Regions from separate parts of the Homo sapiens genome. Here region 1 is linked to region 2. Evidence: fine-mapped expression QTL. A gene starts in region 2. The other region holds a variant in brackets. All regions are shown on one strand. Distances are between the middles of the regions. Region 1 overlaps TYK2 (tyrosine kinase 2). Region 2 holds the start of ICAM1 (intercellular adhesion molecule 1).

What was found. PIP is the estimated chance that this variant, and not a neighbour inherited with it, causes the effect.
Region 1: its variant is the best candidate, but not a certain one, in a credible set for the expression of ICAM1 in whole blood (INTERVAL, PIP 0.76).

What each region holds. Positions count from the first base shown.
Region 1 is chr19:10,355,325-10,363,324 of GRCh38, forward strand. TYK2 (tyrosine kinase 2) reads right to left here. Exons shown (of 25, transcript NM_003331.5): 10 at 7,225-7,333; 11 at 6,940-7,132; 12 at 6,754-6,857; 13 at 6,446-6,631; 14 at 6,187-6,274; 15 at 3,851-3,978; 16 at 2,679-2,814; 17 at 2,440-2,594; 18 at 1,244-1,394. Among named protein-coding and RNA genes, the nearest start is that of ICAM3, 20 kb to the left of the region's middle. The variant A/C (reference allele first, on the strand shown) is at 3,975.
Region 2 is chr19:10,266,903-10,277,515 of GRCh38, forward strand. It overlaps ICAM1 (intercellular adhesion molecule 1), which reads left to right and starts at 4,218. Exons shown (of 7, transcript NM_000201.3): 1 at 4,218-4,324; 2 at 7,863-8,126. The coding sequence starts at 4,258. The region is part of intron 1 of LIMASI (lncRNA inflammatory and mucous response associated, antisense to ICAM1); the gene reads right to left. RefSeq lists a silencer at 1,131-1,425 and enhancers at 3,780-3,869, 4,780-5,019.

The sequences.
Region 1 (8,000 bases), 87 kb after region 2:
AATGTGATATGACCAGTTGAAAATGGCATATTAGGCCGGGCGTGGTGGCTCACGCCTGTAATCCCAACACTTTGGGAGGCTGAGGAGGGTGGATCACCTGAGGTCAGGAGTTTGAGACCAGCCTAGCCAACACAGTGAAACCCCGTCTCTACTAAAAATACAAAAATTAGCTGGGTGTGGTGGTGGACGCCTGTAATCCCAGCTACTCGGGAGGCTGAGGCAGGAGAATTGCTCGAACCCAGGAGGCGGAGGTTGCAGTGGGCCGAGATCGTGCCATTGCACTCCAGCCTGTGCAACAAGAGCAAAACTCCATCTCAAAAAAAAAAAAAAGAAAGAAAGAAAAAAAAAAAGAAAATAGGTCAGGCGCAGTGGCTCATGCCTGTAATCCCAGCACTTTGGGAGGCCGAGGCGGGTGGATCACGAGGTCAAGAGACTGAGACCATCCTGGCCAACATGGTGAATTCCCGTCTCTACTAAAAATACAAAAATTAGCCCGGCGTGGTGGTGGGCGCCTGTAGTCCCAGCTACCCAGGAGGCTGAGGCAGGACAATTACTTGAACCTGGGAGACGGAGGTTGCAGTGAGCCAAGATTGCACCACTGCACTCCAGCCTGGCAACAGAGTGAGACTCCGTCTCAAAAAAAAGAAAAAAGAGCATATTAATTTTTTAAAGAGAACAATACAAAACTTTTTTAAAAAGAAAAAAAAAACTGCAGTGGTCTAATTCTCTAATCCAAAGAAGTTGTGTCTCTCCCCAGACAAAACATTAAGGAGGCCAGGCGCAGTGGCTCACGCCTGTAATCCCAGCAATTTGGGAGGCTGAAGCAGATAGATCATTTGAGGTCTAGAGTTTGAGACCAGCCTGGCCAACATGGCAAAACCCCACCTCTACTAAAAATACAAAAATTAGCCGGGCATGGTGGCACACGCTTGTAATCCCAGCTACTTGGGAGGCTGAGGTGGGAGGATTGCTTGAACCTGGGAGGTGGAGGTTGCAGTGAGCCAAGATCACGTCACTGCGCTCCAGGCTGGGTGACAGAGCAAGATTCCATTGCAAATAAATAAATAAATACATTAATGAGAGCTCAGGGCAGCCAGGCAGGGCATGCTTATGAATGCCACTGCAAGAAATTGGCACACACCCTGAACCACTGTGCAGAGACCTCTCGTGCGCTATAGGCATACAGCAGGGATCCCAGCCCCGTCCCACTTCCCCAGGGTCCCAGCACTGGGATGGAGCTCACTGTGGGGCTGCAGCCGGGTGAGGTCACGCAGGATGGTGCGGAATGATGGCCTCTGGGTTGGCTCATAGGTCAGACACTGGCTGGTGAGTGTGGCCAGCTGTGGGCAGGAGGGCTCGGGCAGCCGGTGCTGCCTCTGGTAGAAATGCTCCTTCTGTTGGGAAAGGGACCCAGAGGAGTCAACATCCTCCCCTCGCCCCCAACCCGTTCCCCAAGAGGCAGAGTCAAGTCCCCAGAGTGGACCGCCAGGTGCCCGCTCTTATCAGTTCCATTATACAGATGAGGCAACTGAGGCTCCACAAAGTGGGAGGACGTGCTCACAGCCGTAGAACCAGGACTGGGACCCAGGTCCAGTGATTATGCAGAGCTGGAGTGTCACAGTCAGCCTCCTGCCCCAAGCTTCCCTCCTGCCCCTCCTGTAGACCACAGCTCCTTAATACACTGAAGCCTCAGCCTTTGCACAGGCCATGCACTCTGCCTAGGCTGCCCTTCCTAGCCAGGCTTGTTGGCATAATTCTACACTTAGATAAAACCTCTTCTGGGGCCGGGCACTGTGGCTCATGCCTGTAATCCCAGCACTTTGGGAGGCCGAGGTGGGCGGATCACCTGAGGTCAGGAGTTTGAGACCAGCCTGACCAATATAATGAAACCCCATCTCTACAAAAAATACAAAAATTAGCCGGGTGTGGTGGCATGTGCCTGTAATCCCCCCTACTCGGGAGGCTGAGACAGGAGAATCGCTTGAACCCAGGAGGCAGAGGTTGCAGTGAGCTGAGATCACGCCATTGCATTCCAGCCTGGGCAATTAGAGTGGAACTTCGTCTCAAAATAAAACCACCACACTCATGAACCTCCTTTGGGAAGCCTTGTCTGACCCCACTGCTGGGTGAGGCGCATCCTCAGCCCTTCTTCCCCACTCTGCAGCCTGGGCGTCTCCCATCGCTGCCCTGGTCACTCTGCCTAAAACTGAAATCAAGTCTCTTACTTGCCTTCTGTGTGCCAGGCACAAGTGACTTCCACAAGGACCTAAAAAGGCTGGGACTACATTGAGCCCCAGCGAGTGGCCCACCTGCTGGTAGCCCAGAGAGACTTGAAGTCACGAGGCCAGAAGGGATGCAGCTTTGAGCTCTGATTCTGTCCTCTGGATTTCTTGGAGGGGCCCCCACTGCGGGGAGGGCCCAAGGGTCTCCTAGACATACCTCGGAGGGACTGCGGCTCTGCAGAGGGGCCTCTCCGTCAAAGCAGATCTCCAGGAGGGTGGCGCCAAACCCCCACTTGTCCATGGCGGTGCTTAGGCTGTTGGCCCCACCTGGTAGGCATTCGGGGGCCAGCCAGGGGATCCTCTCCACCCGCTCTGGGAGGCCAAGGTCAGAGGTCACCAAGGGTGAAAGGAGCAGGGGAAGCCCCCCACTGTGCCCAGGTCCCCTCAGGTACTCACCCTCCCTGGAGAGGGCGCCCAGGCCCACGCCAGGATCACTCAGCTTGATGAAGGGGCTGGTGCCCTCTGCCAACCCCAGCCGGGCCAGCAGGATGTTCCGGCCACACACATTACCATGAACCAGGTTCTTGTTCTCCTGAGGTGGGCAGGAGAGGGGGTGTGGCCACTCAGGAGAGGCACAGACGCCAACCCCAAACCTGGTCCCCATAGGGACAGCCAATGTGAAAAGGACAACTGTGACTATCACTGGGTTTCTTTCTGTTTTGTTTTTTGGGGGGTTATTTTTTTCTTGTTTTTTTTTTTTTTTTTTTTTTTTAAGACAGGGTCTCACTCTGTCTCTCAGGTTGGAGTATAGTGGCACGAACATAGCTCACTGCAGCTTCAAACTCCTGGGCTCAAGCCTTCCAAGTAGCGAGAATTACAGGTGCACATCACCACAGCCTAGCTGATTCTTAAATTTTTGGTGGAGATGGGGTCTAGCTATGCTGCTGCCCAGGCTGGGGTGCAGTGGTGTGATCATAGCTTACTACGGCCTCAAATTCCTGAGCTCAGGTGATCCTCCCACCTCAACTTCCTGAGTACCTCGGCCTACAGGTGCAAGTTACCACATTGGCTAATTTTTTTTGTATTTTTAGTAGAGGCAAGGTTTTGCCATACTGGCCAGGCTGGTCTCAAACTCCTGACCTCAGGTGATCCACCCGCCTTGGCCTCCCAAACTGCTGGGATTACAGGTATGAGCCACCACACCTGGCTATTTGTTTATTTTTAAAAGATGGGGCCAGCTGGGCGTGGTGGCTCACGCCTGGAATCCCAGCACTTTGGGAGGCTGAGGCGGATGGATCACGAGGTCAGAAGTTCGAGACCAGCCTGACCAACATGGTGAAACCCCATCTCTACTAAAAATACAAAAATTAGCTGGGCGTGATGGCAGGAGCCTATAATCCCAGCTACTTGGGAGGCTGAGGCGGGAGAATCATTTGAACCCGGGAGGCGAAGGTTGCAGTGAGCCGAGATCATGCCATTGCACTCCAGCCTGGGTGACAGGGCGAAACTCCACCTAAAACAAAACAAACAAAAAAGATGGGGTCTCGCCCTGTTGCCCAGGCTGGTCTCGAACTCCTGGGCTCCTGGCCCTCCCTGACCGACCCAGGCCCCACACACAGGCCACACACCAGGTAGCTGAGGGCGCTGGCCAGCTGCTGGGCCACCACCATCTTCCAAGCCATGGGCACATGGCCCCGCTCCCTCCGCAGCCACACATCCAGGGGTCCGTGCTCCACGTACTCTGTCACCATG[A/C]TATCTGTAAAGACACAGCTGCTCTGGGGCAACCTGCCTGCTTCTGCCCTCTGGATGGCGGGGAATTGGGGGAGACGCCAGGGAGGGACTTGGCATGTGGCTGGGGAGGTGTCAGGGCAGAGGTGTGGGTGGAGTTTGGTCTGGGTTGAAAGTGAGTTTGGGGAGAGAAGAAATGCGGAATGCAGCAGAGGCAGCGGTGGATGAGGGCATTGGGGTCCAAGTGGGATGGGGCACGGAAGAAGTTGAAGTTCAAGAGAGAAAGGTGGGCTGGGCGTAGTGGCTCACGCCTGTAATCCCAGCACTTTGGGAGGCTGAGGCAGGTGGATCACCTGAGGTCAGGAGTTCAAGGGCAGCCTGCCCAACATGATGAAACTCCATCACTACTAAAAAAAAAAATACAGCCGGGCGCGGTGGCTCACGCCTGTAATCCCAGCACTTTGGGAGGCTGAGGCGGGCGGATCACAAGTTCAGGAGTTCGAGACCAGCCTGGTCAATATGGTGAAACCCCAACTCTACTAAAAATACAAAAAAATTACAGTGAAACCCCATCTCTACTAAAAAGACAAAAAAATTAGCCAGGCATGGTGGTGGGCGCCGGTAGTCCCAGCTACTTGGGAGGCTGAGGCAGAAGAATGGTGGGAGACGGAGCTTGCAGTGAGCCGAGATCACGTCATTGCACTCCAGCCTGGGCGATAGAGCAAGACTCCATCTCAAAAAGAAGAAAAAAAAAAAAATTAGCTGGGCATGGTGGCACATGCCTGTAATCCCAGCTATTCGGGAGGCTGAGGCAGGAGAATTGCTTGAACCCGGGAGGCGGAGGTTGCAGTGAGCCGAGATCACGCCACTGTATTCCAGCCTGGGTGACACAGTGAGACTCCGTCTCAAAAAAATTAAAAAAAAAAAGAGATAAAGGTGGCAGGGTACAGTGGCTCATGCCTGCAATCCTGTCACTTTGGGAGGCTGAGGCAGGAAGATCCCTTGAGCCCAGGAGTTTGAGATCAGCCTAAGCAACATAGTGAGACCCCATCTCTACAAAAAATTTTTAAAAATCAGCCGGGTGTGATAGCACACGCCTGTCATCCCAGGTGCTCAAGAGGCTGAGGCGGAAGGATCGCTTGAGCCCGGGAGGTCGAGGCTTCAGTGAGCCATGATGGCACCACTGCATTGCAGCCGGGGCAACAGAGGGAGACCCTAGTCTCACAAAAAAAGAGATAAAGGTGAGCCTACAAAGTAAGCAACTAGGGATGGGGGGGATGGGCATGGATAAGCAGAGGCTAGGGGCTTGAGGTTGGGGTGTAGGAGATGTTTGGGTACCAGAGTAGTCAGAGGGATGTGGGTCAGGGTGTCGGCCAGGGTCCAGGGGAAAGTGGGGGAGATGCACACACACACACACACAGGGGGGTTGAGGGATGGGTGGGTCTAGGGTTGTTCTGTACAAGGGCTTTATTTTTTATTTATTTATTATATTTTTTGAGACAGAGTCTCGCCCTGTCGCCCAGGCTGGAGTGCAGTGGTACAATCATGGCTCACTGCAGCCTTGAACTCCTGGGCTCAAGTGATCCTTCCATTCCAGCCTCACAAGTAGCTAGGACTACAGGCATAGGTCACCATGCCTGGCCCTGATTTTTAAATTTTTTGTAAAGATAGGGTCTGGACATGTTACCCAGGCTGGTCTTGAACTCCTGGGTTTAAGCGATCCTCCCACCTCTGCCTCCCAAAGTGCTGGGATAGGTGTGAGCCACCACACCTAGCCTATACAAGGAGTTTTGAGCTACCTGCAGAGGAAAGGAAGAGGTGGGGTTAGGCAGGGTTGGATGTGCAGGGGCTGAGGCCTAGGAGAATCAGCACACATCAGCACTGGAGTCTGCCTGAGGCCATAGTGCTGATGGGGCCAGGAGCAGATGGGGGCTGGACTGTAGAGGTTGTTTGGGAGGTTGATGGAAGTGGGGATGTAGTTGGGAATCAGGGTGGGGGTTGAGACTGAGGGCAGGTGAGGGTCGACGTGTTGGGATGTAAGTTATGGGCTGGAATATCGTTAGGGGTTGGGGTCTAGGTTGAAGGTCAAGGTGTAGCCCGGGATCAGAGTACAGGTGAGAGTTGAGAAATAGGCATAGGTTGGGGTGTAGGTCGAGGGTTGGGGTACAGATCAGGGAGTGGGTATAAGTCAGGGGTGGCCTGCCAAAGGGGGATGGGTATGGCGGGACCCACTCACTTTCAGGGCCGCGCACACAGACGCCATGCACGAAGGCCAGGTGCGTGTGGGAGACCTGGCTCATGAGGCTGGCTGTCTCGTAGAAGGCCTGTGGGGACCGGGCAGGTCAGGTGGCTGCAAAGCCGACCCCTCCCATCCCACCTCCTCCACGGACACACCCCTCCCATCCCACCTCCTCCACAGACACACCCCTCCCATCCCACCTCCTCCGGCCACCTCCTCCACAGACACACCCCCAGGCCTGGCCCTGCCCACTCACCAGGGCGATGTCATGGTGACTAGGGTCCAGCACTTTGAGCACCACTCGTAGCTCCTGCCCACGGTCCCTGCCAGGCACGAGGGGGTCCTCGTCATCCATCTTGCCCTCCTCAGGGTCCCCGCTGCCCTCCACTCGCAGGCGGCCCTCATACACGTTGGTCCTTGTGCCCTGGCCCAAGTGGGACAGCTGCGGGATCATGTGGCACAGAATACCGCCATGGTGAAAGTTAGCAGCTGATCTCCCAGGGCCCCCAGCACCCACATCCCCAGGGGCCCTGCCCTTGCCCCGGGCCCCTTCCCTGCACCCACCTGGGTGATCTCCTTCTGGTCAACCCGGTGGAAGCTGAGCTGGCTGAGGTTGAGTGTCCTGGGGCTGGCCCGAGCCCCCCGCATGATGATGAGATTGGAGGTTTCTGGGGGCAGGCATCAAGTCATGGAGGGCGGGCCTGGGGGAGAGATGCCACATCCCACCCAGAGGTCCCCCTATCATCGTACCTCCTGGTTGGGGCAGGCAACAGCGACGCAGAGAGAAGCAGTCATCCCCGGCCCTCAGCAAGCAGCCCTGCAAGGCAGCCCCAAGTTCCCGAACGCTGGGGAAGGACCGGCCCCAGCCCTCCAGCACGAAGGCCCCGTCCTGCTGCTCAATGGGGAACTTTCGGAGCCGCAAGCTCTGCATGCCGTCTGGTGCCTGGCAGGAGGTGGCAGAGGTGGGAGCAGTAAGCAGGGGACCAGGCAGGGAACGTGTCCAGCCCCAGCCCCAGCCCCCAGCCCTGGGCTCACCTGGCTACGCTGGGCCACTGTGAGGATCAGGCGGTAGGGGTGGCTGGTGCTCCAGTGAATGAGGTACAGGCCGTCCTCGGGCCGCAGCTTGGCCTGCACAAATGGCTCCCTGGAAGGTGGTCCAGGGGGACTATCAGGCCACCTGGGGCCACTCTGGACCCATACCCGGGAACAATGACACTCATTACCTACTTAGAGGGCACACACACAGCTAGGACAAGTGTCAGACACAGCCACTCTTGTGGGGACACTAACTCTGGACACACAGCCACTTACATGGAGACACAATGCAGCAGCAGGCACACACCTGCTTTTTTGTTTATTTGTTTGTATTTTTTAGACGGATTTTCCCTCGTCACCCAGGCTGGAATGCAATGGCGTGATCTCAGCTTATTGCAACCTCTGCCCACCTGGGTTCAAGCAATTCTCTTGCCTCAACACCTCAACCTCCCGAGTAGCTGGGATTACAGGTCCCTGCCACCATGCCCAGCTAATTTTTATATTTTTAGTACAGAGGGGGTTTCACCATGTTAGCCAGCCTGGTCTCAAATTCCTGACCTCAGCTGATCTGCCAGCCTCAGCCTCCCAAAGTGCTGGGATTACAGGCATGAGCCACTGTGCCCGGCTACCTGATCTCTCTTTTTTTTTTTTTTTTTTTTGAGACAGGGTCTTGCTCTGTTGCCCAGGCTGGAGTGCAGCGGTGCAATCTTGGCTCACTTCAGCCTGGACCTCCCAGGCTCAAGAGATTCTCCCACCTCAGCCTCCTGAGGAGCCAG
Region 2 (10,613 bases):
TAATCAAAGATAAGCTCTGCCGGGCACAGTGGCTCACGCCTTTTGGAGGCCAAGGCGGGCGGATCACCTGAGGTCAGGAGTTCTAGACCTGCCAGGCCAACATGGTAAAACCTCATCTCTACTAAAAATACAAAAATTAGCTAGATGTGGTGGTGGGTACCTGTAGTCTCAGCTACCTGGGAGGCTGAGGCAAGAGAATCGCTTGAACCTGGGAAGTAGAGGTTGCAGTGAGCCGAGATTGCACCACTGCACTCCAGCCTGGGCGACGGAGTGAGACGACCTCACAAAAATTTACATAAATAAAATGAAAAGTAAAATAAAAATACAAAAGTTGGCCGGGTGCGTTTGCTCACGCCTGTAATCCCAGCACTTTGGGAGGGTGAGGCAGGCAGATAATGAGGTAAGAAGATCGAGACCATCCTGGCTAACACGGTGAAACCCTGTCTCTACTAAAAATACAAAAAATTAGCTGTGCGTGGTGACACGCACCTGTAGTCCCAGCTATTTGGGAGGCTGAGGCAGGAGAATCACTTGAACCTGGGAGGTGGAGGTTGCAGTGAGCCGAGATCGCACCACTGCACTCCAGCCTGGGCCACAGAGTGAGACTCCATCTTGAAAAAAAAAAAAAATACAAAAGTTAGCCAGGGGTGTTGGTGGGTGCCTGTAATCCCAGCTATTTGGGAGGCTAAGGCAGAAGAATTTCTTGAACCTAGGAAACGGAGGTTGCAGTGAGCCGAGATCACACCTCTGTACTCCAGCCTGGACAACAGAGCGAGACTTTGTCTCAAAAAAAAAAAAAAAAAAAAAACTAAATAGGCCGGGAGCAGTGGCTCATGCCTATAATCCCAGCCCTTTGGGAGGCCAAGGCAGGTGGATCACTTGAGGTCAGGAGTTTGAGACCAGGCTGGCCAACATGGTGTAACCCCGTCTCTACTAAAAACACAAAAATTAGCCGGGTCTGGTGGCGTATGTCTGTAATCCCAGCTACTCGGGAGGCTGAGGCAGGAGAATCACTTAAACCTGGGAGGCAGGGGTTGCAGTGAGCTGAGATCGTGCCACTGCACTCTAGCCAGGGTGACAGAGTGAAACTCTGTCTCAAAAAATTAAAAAAGAAATTCAGCAAGTAATGAGTTAAGGAATTCGAATATTAAGGCGAGTGACAAGGAACGCCCAGGATGTGGCCCAGGATGGAGTAGGGGGGACACTCATTTAGGAGAAAGCTCAGGCCACAAGACAGGAGGAGCCAGCCTTGTTGGGGTTGAAGGGAAGAGCATTCCAGGCTGAGGGAACTGCAAGGCGTTTGCATGGGACACTATGGGATGGCTTCTGCCCTTGGTGGGCAGCCTCTGGTCTGAGGCCATTCTTTGGCCTGCCTGACTGTCTGGCAACCGGGAGGAAGCCCTGCCCTTCCTGGAGACAGAAACAAAGGTCTAGGAAATATCTGCTTCCCTTTTCCTTGAAAAACGCTTAAGGGAACGGAGGACTGGGAGGTGCCGTCTCTCTCTGCCAGCCTGCCCCCTACCATAGCCATCCCACTCCCATCTCAGAAAGTGACCCGCCATCCTCCAAAAGGCTCGGACCCTGATCAAGGAGTCATCCCCCTTGTCCCAGCACCTCCAGTTGGCCCAGCCTCCAAAACGGATGTCAAATTCAGCCCTTTCTCCAAGGACACTGCCCAGTCCAGGCCCCACTATCATTCATCTGGACTAGAACAGTCACCTCCTCTCCCATCTCCTGGCTGCAGCTCTTGAAGCCTCAACTGGGCCCCTGTGAACACTTGAGTTAGGGCAAGGTCCTTCCTCTGCTCAGAACCCTCTATACCTCCCACCTCGCTGGGCATAAAAGCCAAAGTCCTGGCCAGGCACGGTGGCTCACATCTGTTATCCCAGCACTTTGGGAGGCCAAGGGGGGCGGATCACTAGAGGTCAGGAGTTAGAGACCAACATGGTGAAACCCCATCTCTACTAAAAATACAAAAATTAGCTAGGCGTGGTGACGCACCCCTGTAGTACCAGCTACTCGGTAGGCTGAGGTGGGAGAATCGCTTGAACCTGGGAGGCAGAGTTTGCAGTGAGCCGAGATCACACCACTGTGCTCCAGCCTGGGTGACAGAACGAGACTGGGGTTCAGAAACAAACAAACAAAACAACAAAGTCCTCCTCAGGTGACAGGAACTTGCACCTATCTGCCCTGTCATCTCCCTGCCCGCTCCTCTCCTCGAATCTCTCCTTTGCTAAGCCTGCTCCAGCCACACTGTTCTCCTGGCTGTTCCTTTTTTTTTTTTTTTTTTTTTTTTTTTGAGTCTCACTCTCACCCAGGCTGGAGTGCAGTGCCTCTATCTTGGCTCACTGCAACCTCCGCCTGCCGGGTTCAAGAGATTCTCCTGCATCAGCCTCCCAAGTAGGTGGAATTACAGGTGTGCACCACCACACCCGGCTAATTTTTGTATTTTGCATAGAGATGGGGGTCTCCCTATGTTGCCCAGGCTGGTCTTGAACTCCTGGGCTCAAGTGATCCTCCCATCTCGGCCTCCCAAAATGCTGGGATTACAGGTGGGAGCCGCGCCCAGGTGGATTTTTGTCTGACTCTGTTCATTCCTGTGTCCCCAGTACCTGGAAGGACGCCAAGCACACAGTAGGCGCTTAAAAAACATTGAGCCACATGTTGAGAAAAGAACGGCACCATTGTGGCTGCAAGTGGGACTTGGGCCGCGCGGGGGAGCTCGCGCACCTCGGGCCGGGGCAAGAGCTCAGTGGAACCCGCCCGAGGAAGAACCCGTGGCGCAGGATTTTCCCAGGCCTTCTGAGGACCAGGGGCGTCCCCCGTCCCACCCTGTGACTTTGCTCAGGCCGTTCCGGGGCGGGAATTCAGAACTCCTCAGCCCCCCAAGAAAAAAATATCCCCGTGGAAATTCCTTGGGAATGACCGAGGCGGGGGAAATATGCGTCTCTGGATGGCCAGTGACTCGCAGCCCCCTTCCCCGATAGGAAGGGCCTGCGCGTCCGGGGACCCTTCGCTTCCCCTTCTGCTGCGCGACCTCCCTGGCCCCTCGGAGATCTCCATGGCGACGCCGCGCGCGCCCCACAACAGGAAAGCCTTAGGCGGCGCGGCTTGGTGCTCGGAGACTTAAGAGTACCCAGCCTCGACGTGGTGGATGTCGAGTCTTGGGGTCACACGCACAGGCGGTGGCCAAGCAAACACCCGCTCATATTTAGTGCATGAGCCTGGGTTCGAGTTGCCGGAGCCTCGCGCGTAGGGCAGGGGTTCGAGCGCCCCTTCTCCCTGCCTCGCCTCTGCGCCTGGGGGCTGCTGCCTCAGTTTCCCAGCGACAGGCAGGGATTTCGAGCGTCCCCCTCCCCTCCCTCGTCAAGATCCAAGCTAGCTGCCTCAGTTTCCCCGCGGAGCCTGGGACGCCAGCGGAGGGGCTCGGCGCGTAGGGATCACGCAGCTTCCTTCCTTTTTCTGGGAGCTGTAAAGACGCCTCCGCGGCCAAGGCCGAAAGGGGAAGCGAGGAGGCCGCCGGGGTGAGTGCCCTCGGGTGTAGAGAGAGGACGCCGATTTCCCCGGACGTGGTGAGACCGCGCTTCGTCACTCCCACGGTTAGCGGTCGCCGGGAGGTGCCTGGCTCTGCTCTGGCCGCTTCTCGAGAAATGCCCGTGTCAGCTAGGTGTGGACGTGACCTAGGGGGAGGGGCATCCCTCAGTGGAGGGAGCCCGGGGAGGATTCCTGGGCCCCCACCCAGGCAGGGGGCTCATCCACTCGATTAAAGAGGCCTGCGTAAGCTGGAGAGGGAGGACTTGAGTTCGGACCCCCTCGCAGCCTGGAGTCTCAGTTTACCGCTTTGTGAAATGGACACAATAACAGTCTCCACTCTCCGGGGAAGTTGGCAGTATTTAAAAGTACTTAATAAACCGCTTAGCGCGGTGTAGACCGTGATTCAAGCTTAGCCTGGCCGGGAAACGGGAGGCGTGGAGGCCGGGAGCAGCCCCCGGGGTCATCGCCCTGCCACCGCCGCCCGATTGCTTTAGCTTGGAAATTCCGGAGCTGAAGCGGCCAGCGAGGGAGGATGACCCTCTCGGCCCGGGCACCCTGTCAGTCCGGAAATAACTGCAGCATTTGTTCCGGAGGGGAAGGCGCGAGGTTTCCGGGAAAGCAGCACCGCCCCTTGGCCCCCAGGTGGCTAGCGCTATAAAGGATCACGCGCCCCAGTCGACGCTGAGCTCCTCTGCTACTCAGAGTTGCAACCTCAGCCTCGCTATGGCTCCCAGCAGCCCCCGGCCCGCGCTGCCCGCACTCCTGGTCCTGCTCGGGGCTCTGTTCCCAGGTGAGTCGGGGTGGGGATTGCCGTCGGGCCAGTTCTCCGAAGCCCCGGGAGGACCGGCTCCCGGGTCAGGTCATGCATGCTTAGGTAGCTGTTTATGGGAAGGAGGGGCTAGAGACAGCGATTGAAAGGCAACAGCCAGTAGGTTCGAATCCAGACCCTGCATACCTCCACGTGTGGCCTTGGGCTATAGATTGCAGCTTTAAAAAAGGGTAGGGGGTTGGAGATGGAGGGGAGGGGCGGGCCTCGTTTTGTTGCCCAGGCCGGTCTTGAACTCCGGGGGTCTAGCCTTACCTCCTGCCTCAGCCTCCCGAGTAGCTGGGATGAGAGGTGTGAACCACCGCCTTGCTTGGCTAGATTGCGTCTCTTACAGTTTCTCAGCTGTAAAACGGGAAACGTTATAGCGGCCACCTGGCAGGGTATCTTGGCCCAGCGCAGCACCTGGCCCCAGGACTCGATCATGATGGTTTGGGAACTTGGCTCTGTGCCAACCCAACAAGGCTTAAGGGACCCCCACCCCCCTCAAGATGTATATTCTGTTCCTCATCCTCTCTGCCCCTGGGGAAGTCCAGGGCTGCTTCTACTTGGGGGAATTCCAGAGCTGACTTATCCGTGGCCCAAAGCTGAGAAGTGGGACGCCCCAGCACACCCTCCCCCAGCTCCAGCCCAGCTAGGGAAGAGGGAAGGGGTCAGAGGGTCTTTCATGGTGGTGTAAGTTTGGGGAACCAGGAGGGTGGGAGATTGACAGCTTGGTTAACAGCTCAACAAAGCCTGAGATCCAGGCCAGCACGGTAGTTCATGCCAGTAATCCCAACACTTTAGGAGCCCCAGGCGGGCGAATCACTTAAGGTCAGGAGTTTGAGACCAGCCTGGCCAACATGGCAACATCCCGTCTCTACTAAAAATACAAAAATTAGCTGGCATGGTGGTGGGCGCCTGTGATCCCAGCTGCTCGGGAGGCTGAGGGAGGAAAATCCCTTAAGCCCACGAGGCTGAGGTTGCAGTGAACCAAGATTGTGCCACTGCACTCCAGCCTGGGAGACATAGCGAGATTCTGTCTCAAAAAACAAAGCGTTCTGATCCGGACTCAGACCCAGATCGCACTGCTTTCTAGCTGAGTAACCATTTCTCTCTATGAAATGGGAATGGTCCCAGAATCTCCCTTGGAGAATGTATGGAGCCAGTGTCCTCACACCCCCATCCAAGATAGAACAAATCTGAGACAGGAATCTTTGAGTGAGGCAGTGCTGGGCTCAGACATTTTTTCCCACCTTCGGAGGCAGCAGAATCTGAGGGACCTGATCCAAATAAGCCCCTTCTTTCTTTCTTTTCTTTTCTTTTTTTTTTTTTTTTTTTTTTGAGACGGAGTCTCACTCTGTCGCCCAGGCTGGAGTGCAGTGGCGTGATCTCGGCTCACTGCAACCTCTGCCTCCCAGGTTCAAACGATTCTCCTGCCTCAGCCTCCCTGAGTAGCTGGGACTACAGGCATGTGCCATCACACCCGGCTAATCACTGTGTTAGCCAGGATGGTCTCGATTTCCTGACCTCATGATCTGCCCACCCTGCCTCCCAAAGTGCTGGGATTACATGCGTGAGCCACAGTGCCCACCCCGTAAGCCCCTTCTTTCTTACCTGCAAGGTAGCCAGTTGCTACCCATCCTGTGCTGAGTTACTTGTATTAGCAAGGGATGGGGTGGCTATACTCACCCACCTTACAGATGGGGAAATTGAGGCCCAAAGAGGGGGAAACTACGTGTCTCAGGGAGTGAGGAGCCAGTCTGATTCCTGGAGGGCTGACTGTCTCCACCTGACTTCTTAGGAGGGAGGAGGGCACCAACTTCACATTAAAATCTGGTTGGACACAGTGGCTCACACCTGTAATCCTGGCATTTTGGGAGGCTTAGGCGGGAGGATCACTTGAGGCCAGGAGTTTGAGACCAGCCTTAGCAACATAGTGAGACCCCATCTCTACAAAAATGTTTTTCAGGGCCAGGCGCGGTGGCTCACACCTATAATCCCAGCACTTTGGGAGGCTGAGGCGGGCGGATTACCTGAGGTCAGGAGTTTGAGACCAGCCTGACCAACATGGAGAAACCCCGTCTCTACTAAAAGTACAAAATTACCCGGGCGTGGTGGCGCATGCCTGTAATCCCAGCTACTCGGGAGGCTGAGGCAGGAGAATCGCTTGAACCTGGGAGGCGGAGGTTGCGGTGAACTGAGATCGTGCCATTGCACTCCAGCCTGGGCAACAAGAGCTAAACTCCGTCTCAAAAAAAAAAAAATGTTTTTCAAATATTAGCCGGGTATGGTGGTGTCCTGTAGTCCCAGCTACTTGGGAGGCTGAGATGGGAGGATCACTTGAGCCCAGGAGTTCAAGGTTACAGTGAGCTATGATTGTGCCACTGTATTCCAGCCTGGGTAACAGAGGGAGACCCGTTTAAAAAAAAAAAAGTGATGGCTAAAGTCCTTCCATGGCTCCCTATTGCCCTCAGTATAAAGAACACATGTGGCTGGGCGTGGTGGTTCACGCCTGTAATCCCAGCACTTTGGGAGGCTGAGGCGGGCGGATCACTTGAGGCCAGGAGTTTGAGAGCAGGCTGGCCGACGTGGCGAAACCCCGTCTCTATTAAAAATACAAAAATTAGCTGGGCGTGGTGGTGCTTGCCTGTAATCCCAGATACTCTGGAGGCTGAGGCAGGAGAATCACTTGAACCCGGGAGGCAAAGGTTGCAGTGAGCTGAGATTGCGCCACTGCACTCCAGTCTGAGTGACAAAGCGAGACTCCATCTCAAAAAAAAAAAAAATAAAAGAACACATCTTTAGCATGGCCTTCAGTGCTCACGGGATCTTCCTGAATTAATCTCCCCCTCTTCATCCTTGCTCACTCAGCTCCAGCCACCCTGCCCCGGGACATCTGTACTTGCCTGGAACTTATTTCCCTTTTCTCCGGACAGCCAGCCCTTTCTCGTCATTTAGATCTCTGCTGAAACATTACCCTGTCACCAAAGCACTGTCTATTCTATCACCCTGTTTTGTTTTTGTCAAAGCTCATATTAACATCAGTTATTAATTATCTTGTTTGCTCATAATTTTTTTTTTTTTTTTTTTGGAGACAGAGTCTCGTTCTGTTGCTCAGGCTGGAGTGCAGTGGCACAATCTTGGCTCACTGTAACCTCCACCTCCCAGGTTCAAGTGATTCTTGTGCCTCAGCCTCCCAAATAGCTAGGACTACAGGCACGTCCCACCATGCCCAGCTAATTTTTGTATTTTTAGTGGAGACGGGGCTTTGTCATGTTGGCCAGGCTGATCTCAAATTCCTGACCTCAAGTGATCTGCCCGCCTTGGCCTCCCAAAGTGCTGGGATTACAGGCGTGAGCCACCACACCCGGCCTGCTCATGAATTTTCTCTTTAACTTCCACATCGAAGGCAAAGTATTGTCTTGTTAAGGCTGTGCCTCCAGCACCCAGCACAGGCTGGGCGCACATTCCCTTGATGAACCTGATTTGTAATGCCTGTCGCCTCTTCCCTCGTTTCTTCTAGGACCTGGCAATGCCCAGACATCTGTGTCCCCCTCAAAAGTCATCCTGCCCCGGGGAGGCTCCGTGCTGGTGACATGCAGCACCTCCTGTGACCAGCCCAAGTTGTTGGGCATAGAGACCCCGTTGCCTAAAAAGGAGTTGCTCCTGCCTGGGAACAACCGGAAGGTGTATGAACTGAGCAATGTGCAAGAAGATAGCCAACCAATGTGCTATTCAAACTGCCCTGATGGGCAGTCAACAGCTAAAACCTTCCTCACCGTGTACTGTGAGTAACTGAGCCCGGAGGGCTGGACTAGGCAGACCCGGTGGGAGAGACGTGCAGGGGCACCTGCAGAGGCCTGGGGGAATCTTTGCCACTTGCTCGTAGGGTCAAGGAGGGGCTCCTTGCAGGGCAGGTGGGGACATCCTTGGAAAGTCCCTTTGTGAATTTCTTTGGGTACAATTAAAGTATTTACAGGCTGGGTGCGGTGGCTCATGCCTGTAATCCCAGCACTTTGAGAGGCTGAGGCTGGCGGATCACCTGAGATCAGGAGTTTAAGTTTCGCCAACATGGCGAAACCCTGTCTCTGCTGAAAATACAAAAATCAGCCGGGCATGGTGTCAAGCGCCTGTAATCCCAGCTACTTGGAAGGCTGAGGCAGGAGAACGCTTGAACCTGAGAGGCAGAGATTGCAGTGAGCCGCGATCGTGCCAGTGCACTCCAGTCTGGATAACAGAGCAAGATTCCATCTCAAGAAAAAAAAAATGCCATCTCTCTATGCCTCACTCTTTGAACATATGACACGGTCCTGCTTCAGACACTTTAATAAAAGATGCAAATTAAGCCAAGTGTGGTGGCTTGTACCTATAATCCCAACTACTCCAGAGGCTGAGGCAGAAGGATGGTTTGAGCCCAGGAGTTTGAGACCAGCCTGGGCAACAGAGTGAGACCCTGTTTCTTTCTTTTTTTTTTTTTTTTTTTTGAGACGGAGTCTCACTCTGTCGCCCAGGCTGGAGTGCAGTGGTGTGATCTCGGCTCACTGCAAGCTCCGCCTCCCGGGTTCACGCCATTCTCCTGCCTCAGCCTCCCGAGTAGCTGGGACTACAGGCGCCTGCCACCATGCCCGGCTCATTTTTTTGTATTTTTAGTAGAGACGGGGTTTCACTGTGTTAGCCAGGATGGTCTCAATCTCCTGACCTAGTGGTCCGCCCGCCTCGGCCTCCCAAAGTGCTGGGATTACAGGTGTAAGCCACTGTGCCCATCCAAGACCCTGTTTCTACCGGAAAAAAAAAGTAAATAATTTAGCTGGGCATCGTGGTGTGCACCTGTAATCCCAGCTGCTCCTGAGGCTGTGATGGGAGGATTGCTTTAACCCAGGGGTTCGAATCCTAGGAGTTCGAATCCATCCTAGGCAACATAGCAAAACCCCATTTTTATTTAAAAAAAAAAAAAAAGATATGAGTTAAAACTAGCCCTGGGATGGCATTTTTCACATATTGGTAACAAACAAAAGAATTGATGGCCGGGCGCAGTGGCTCACGCCTGTAATCCCAGCACTTTGGGAGGCCGAGGCGGGCGGATCACAAGGTCAGGAGATCGAGACCATCCTGGCTAACATGGTGAAACCCCGTCTCTACTAAAACTACAAAAAATTAGCCGGGCATGGTGGCAGGCGCCTGTGGTCCCAGCTACTCAGGAGGCTGAGGCAGGAGAATGGCATGAACCCGGGAGGCAGAGCTTGCAGTGAGCCAAGATCGTGCCACTGCACTCCAGCCTGGGCGACAGAGCAAGACTCCATCTCAAAAAAAAAAAAAAAAAAAAGAATTGATAACAGCTGTGCTGCCAAGGCTATTGGAACGTAGGAGGTCCTAGGACAGTGCTGTTGGGAGCATAAATAAGCCCAACCCTGTGGCGGGAAATTGGGCATCAGTTCTCAAAATGTCATGGGCTGGGCACGGTGGCTCACGCCTGTAATCCCAGCACTTTGGGAGGCTGAGGGAGGCGGATCACTTGAGGTCAGGAGTTCGAGACCAGCCTGACCACCATGGAGAAACCCCGTCTCTATTAAAAATACAAAAAAAACTAGCCAGGCATAGTGGCACATACCTGTAATCCCAGCTACTCGGGAGGCTGAGGCAGGAGAATCTCTTGAAACTGGGAGGCAGAGGTTGCGGTGAGCTGAGATTGCGCCACTGCACTCCAGCTTGGGCAACAAGAGCAAAACTCCATCTCAAAAAAAAAAAAAAAAGAAATAAAAGAAGGTATGTTGAATATGAGTGGTATGCCACCCTCACATTAGGGAAGGGCAGTTTCGGGGAGGCTGTATTTATGTATAAAATAGCCCTAAAAGGAAGTGGGAGAAATGACAATATTAGCTGGCTATGAGAAGAGAGGCTGGGAGGCTGTGGGAGAGGGCTTGGGTGTGGAGAATTCTTTTTGTTTTTTCCTTTTTTTGAGACAGAGTTTCACTCTTGTTGCCCAGGCTGGAGTGCAATGGCACGATCTCAGCTCACCGCAACCTTCACCTCCTGAGTTTAAGTGATTCTCCGGCCTCAGCCTCCCGACTAGCTGGGATTACAGGCATGGGCCACTACGCCTGGCAAATTTTGTATTTTTAGTAGAGACAGGGTTTCTCCATGTTGGTCAGGCTGGTCTTGAACTCTGACCTCAGGTGATCCGCCCGCCTCGGCCTCCCAAAGTGCTGGGATTACAACGTGAGCCACTTTGCCTGGCTGAGAATTCTTTTTTTGTTGTTGTCTTTTTGAGATGGAG